2 separate regions of the Homo sapiens genome follow, and region 1 is linked to region 2. The links come from fine-mapping of genetic effects on gene expression. Tissue or cell type: blood mononuclear cells. Region 2 holds a variant in brackets; the other region holds the start of a gene. All regions are shown on one strand. Distances are from middle to middle.

Region 1 (2,689 bases), 34 kb after region 2:
TCATAGATGGGAAAACAGCCATAAAAAAGTAACTTCTGAGGATCACACAGCTGGTCTAGTACTTGAGGTTGTGTCCTGGTTCAGTGGTCTTTGCTTGAAAACATAAGATGGAAAACTAGACTGAACTTCATTTAATATAGATGTGTCAGTATCACAGCTCAAAATCTGCCGGTGAGAAGCTGCTGTTGTATTTCCAGCTAGGAAAAGTCAGGAATCTTTCAAGTTTCCACTCAAGATGTGGGGTTTCACTGTATGGGCAACAACATGGTCATGAATGTACGCCTCTACGAGAACTGGGTTTTGATGCTCAAGTATTTTGATATTGGAAGAGAAGATTTTCCTAGCAGGAAATCTGATGCGTGCATTTGGTAGTGCTACTGAGAAACGAATCAAATATATCTTGTGTAACAGTAAAAAGAAGTGGGAAGATTCTGACACAATGACATCCTGGCTGGAGGAGTTTAGCCGACACTTAGCGCACAGGAGATGAGTTCTTTCCATCTCCTAAAGAGGAAAAAGGGCAAATTCACCCAGAGAAGGAGAGAAAATGTGTTCCATAATCTATTGAAATTTATGTTCAGTAACGAACTTTGGACATCTAAGCTTGTTAGCTGCAAATACCCCTTAAGAGTTCTACAAAAAAATGCTGCTACGGAATTGCAAAGATTTTGAAATGCAGTACTACAGTGACAGCTGATCCGGGTCCATACCTGCAAGCAGAGGGCTAGTGACCCTTTCGTGTCCATCTTTTTATCAGCGGCCTCTAACCAAGCGGCCTCTCTGTGGGTACCCCCTACCTACCCCATCCCATATTGTGAACTATTATATTTTCTGTCTGCAACCTGGAACCTGACCCTTTTTCCCTGTCTCCAACTCCCGCCAGGGGCCGGCCTCCTTACCTTCCTTCCTCTCCCACCGGTCCACAGAAAAGTTGGCGCCCCCGTCTACCTGTGCCAGAGCCTGGCACACCTGGGCCTGGGTCTCCAGAATCAGCAGCTCCATCTTGGTCTTCATGTCGCCCGGCCTCCTTCGCAGCTCGCCCAGGTCGGTCACAGGCGGGGCCATGAAGCTGCTGCAGCGGTGGGCCAGCTCATCCTCCTCCTCCTCCGGCCTCCCCAGCGAAGTGGCCCGCGTCCCCGAGGTCTTAGGCAACATCTCCGCCCGCTGCACATGCCCGAAGGCGGCGGTGGCCAGCCCCACCAACCCCGCCAGCGCCGCGGCCAGCCCTGTCCCCACCCAGGGGCCGCCTCTCGACGTCGAGCCGTGCCCCAGCCCGCGGCTCTGCTCCGTGCCAGCCGGGCCAGGGGGCCGGCAGACGCGTCCGGCTGCGCTGCGCTGGGACCAGGCTCGGAGCCCTCCGCCGCCGCACTGGGACCAGGCGCGGGGCCCTCCGCAGCCGCCCCGCGCCACGAGCCAGCAGGGGCCCGAGCTCAGCCTGCCCAGCTGCAAGGCCATGTTCCCGCACTATCACCTGGAGCAGTGCCTGCGTCCCAGAGCCCTGCGTTTGAGCCCCCCACCCAGACCCCCGGAGTATTGAGCCGGCGAGCTGCACAGGCGGAAAGAACCTTTCGAGAAGAGCCGCTGCAGCGTCGGGCTCCGGAGGCGGGGGCGGGAACTGGGGCGCGCTGGGAGCTGTAGTCCGGATCCTATCGCCGCCTGCGGCGTCCCTGCGCGGGGCGGGAGATAAGAATCCGACGCGCCCAGAAGGGCTGGTCCGAAGGGAAGAGAGTGGGGCGGGGACGGTGCTGTGGAAGGGACGGGAGAGATAAAAGAGGCTTTCTTGTCACGTACAACCTCGGGTCGGCTGTTTACTCAGCCAAGGAGAGAAGATAGAGTAGGGCTGGGAGGCTGAGGGCGGACTGGGGCGGAAATGTGGCAGAGATCCCAGTCCCGCTTACATTTTCAAACAGGATTTGCGAATACAGAGCCTGGCTCAGGATCTGTATAGACCCGCCCTTCGCCCTGGGTCCTGGTCCTCTAGAGTTTTTAGAGGGGATGGGCAGGCTGGGAAACTCTTTGCTGAAGGATGGTTTTCTAAAGAGAGTGGGAGAAGCTAGTAATGGACTCGGAAGAGAGTCGAGGAGAAGACTTTCTGTGATCGAGTCCACATCACAGTTCTGTCCTTAAGATTTCCCCAGGCTGGGGCCGGGCGCGGTGGCTCAAGCCTGTAATGCTAGCATTTTGGAAAGCCGAGGCGGTTGGATCACATGAGGTCAGGAGTTCGAGACCAGCCAACATGGTGAAACCCTGTCTCTACTAAAACTACAAAAAAATAGCCGGGCGTGGCGGCGTGCACCTGTAGGCTCAGCTACTCGGGAGGCTGAGGCAGGAGAATCGCTTGAACCCGGGAGGCAGAGGTTGTAGTGAGCCGAGATCGCACCACTGCACTCCAGCCTGGGTGACAGAGTGAGACTCTGTCTCAGAAAAAAAAAAAAAAAAAAAAGGTTTCCCCAGGCCTTGCTTCTATAGTGCCTACTTGATTATTTTAGAAAAAGGAAAAGCAACGTGACTGTTTTGGTTAACCAGTAGAAAATTCCTGACTTGGTGTGTTTTGGTGATTAACAAATAAGAATTTAAAAAATAGTTATTCTACTACTGTAGGGTGCTCCCAAATATTGCTCACGTTTAATACTTACAACAACTGCTACAAACTAGGCAAGGCAAATATCCACACTTCCTCCTACTCTGT
Region 2 (2,689 bases):
GGCCCCAGTGTGTGTTGTTCCCCTCCTTGTGTACATGTGTTCAAAAACCCTACCTTGAAGTCAAAGCTTACATATATATACATCACATATTAGGTAAGAACATAATTGACATAAATTTGTGTTGGAATAAAAGCATAGCTATTTTAATCAGATTTATAGTCCTATATGTACTTCAGCATTCACTTCAGCTGTTTGGAAAAAAAGAACAAAATAAGAAGCTGGATCTCTCTCAACCCTTATGTCAAAATACATTTCTGGTGCAGTGATGTGCTAGAGTTGGCATATATCAGCTGGCAAGAGCCAACTGTGCACATCTTTTCCTAACTCTGTGTTCAGCGAAGTCACATGGGCAGCTTGAAATTGGACATGATGGGAGTATTTACACTTTGGAAATTGGCAAATACTACAATTCAGAGCTTTTTGTTGTTGTTTTGAGAGCCAATTTTGTAGTCATTGCTACTGGTAGGAAAAAACTAGTATCTTATTAACTCAGAAGATAATATGGGAGTTTTCCTTTGAACAATTCCCAGTGTGGTAGGGAAAGCTTTATAAAACCTAAAATCTTTTTCTAAAAGATACATTTTACACAAACACATAGACCAATGGAACAGAATAGAGAACTCAGAAATAAGACTGCACACCTACAACCATCTGATCGTCGACAAACCTGACAAAGACAAGCAATGGGAAAAGGGTCTCTATTTAATAAATGGTGCTGGGAGAACTGGCTAGCCATATGCAGAAAATTGAAACTGGATCCCTTCCTTGTACCTTCTACAAAACTAAAACTCAAGATGGATTAAAGACTCAAATGTAAAACCCAAAACAATAAAAACCTTAGAAGAAAATCTAGGCAATACCATTCAGGACATAAGCACAGGCAAAGATTTCATGATGAAAACACCAAAAGCAATTGCAACAAAAGCAAAAATTGACAAATGGGATCTAATTGAACTAAAGAGCTTCTGCACAGCAAAAGAAATTATCATTAGAGTGAACAGACAACCTACAGAATGGGAGAAAATTTTTGCAATCTATCTGATGGGCAAAGGTCTAATATCCAGAGTCAACAAGGAACTTAAACAAATTTATAAGAAAAAAACAACTCCTTTTAAAGGTGGGCAAAGGACACGAATAGACACTTCTCAAAAGAAGACATTCATGCAGCCAACAAACATATGAATAAAAGCTCAATATCACCTATATTAGAGAAATGCAAATCAAAACCATAATGAGACACAATTTCATGCAAGTCAGAATAGCAATTACTACAACATCAAGAAACAACAGATGCTGGTGAGGTTGCTGAGAAAAGGGAAC[A/G]CTTTTACACTGTCAGTGGGAATGTAAATTATTTCAACCATGTGGAAGACAGTGTGGCAATTCCTCAAACATCTAGAAGCAGAAATACCATTTGACCCAGCAATCCCACTACTGGGTATATACCCAAAGGAAAATAAATCATTCTATTTTAAAGATACATGCATGCATGTGTTTATTGCAGCAGTATTCCCAATAGCAAAGACATGGAATTAACCCAAATGCCCATCAATGATAGACTGGATAAAGAAAATGTGATACATATACACCATGGAATACTACGCAGCCATAAAAAGGAACAAGATCATATCATTTGCAGGGACATGGATGGAGCTGGAAGCTGTTATCCTCAGCAAACTAATGCAGGAACAGAAAACCAGGCACTGCATGTTCTCACTTATAAGTGGGAGCCAAATGATGAGGACACATGGACACACGGTGGGCAACAACACATGTTGGGGTGTGTCATGGGAGCAGGGGGAGGGAGAGCATCAGGAATAATAACTAATAGATGTTGGGCTTAACACTTAGGTGATAGGTTGATCTGTGCAGCAAACCACCATGGCACGCATTTACCTATGTAACAAACCTGTATATCCTGCACATGTACCCCAGAACTTAAAATAAAAATTGATGAAAAAATAAAAGATACATTTTACTACAAAAAGTAAACATTTTCTGCCCTAAAAAGATGTATAAACTATGTTACAATAAAAATTTCAAAATGGGGAAAAACATGCATACTTATAAAAAAGGGCTAATTTTCTTATTATACAAAAAGCTCTAATAGCAAAAAGATCAATTCAATATAAAGCGAGTTAAGATATAAATTGGCAGTTAACAGAAATATAAATATAAATTGTCAATGAATATTTTATAAATGCTCAACCTCCTGCATAACTAAGTCCAAGTTGGAAAAAAAAAAACTTTTTTAAAAGTTATAAAATGGCAAAATTATAGTGTGAGCTTCAATGTTGAGGGTAGGTATGGAGAAGCCCACTCATTCACTGTGGGACACTGTTAAATTAAATTGCATATTATTAAGTGAAATTTAAAATTCACACTCTTTTCAACTATTTTCAATTCTATTCCTAAGAATTTGTTTTACAGACTTTTTATATTCTCACAAAAATAAGTAGACGTGGATGATCATTGTGACATTGTTTGTCTATTAGTTATCTACTCCTGTGCTTAAAAATTACCCCAAAACTTTAAAGTTTAAAGTCATAATAGACATCATTATCTCATAGAGTTTCTGTGTCTCAGTTATTGGAGAGCAATTTAGTTGAGTGGCTGTTTCATGGGGTTGTAGTCAATGTGTTGACAGAGACTGCAGTCATCTCAAAGTCTGACTGGGGCTGGAAGATCCAAT

What was found. PIP is the estimated chance that this variant, and not a neighbour inherited with it, causes the effect.
Region 1: CPOX starts here. The variant in region 2 is fine-mapped to the expression of CPOX in blood mononuclear cells (TOPMed, PIP above 0.99).

What each region holds. Positions count from the first base shown.
Region 1 is chr3:98,592,050-98,594,738 of GRCh38, forward strand. CPOX (coproporphyrinogen oxidase) reads right to left here and starts at 1,562. Exons shown (of 7, transcript NM_000097.7): 1 at 900-1,562. The coding sequence starts at 1,455. RefSeq lists a silencer at 1,101-1,550 and an enhancer at 2,051-2,100.
Region 2 is chr3:98,558,323-98,561,011 of GRCh38, forward strand. No RefSeq gene overlaps it. Among named protein-coding and RNA genes, the nearest start is that of GPR15, 28 kb to the left of the region's middle. The variant A/G (reference allele first, on the strand shown) is at 1,321.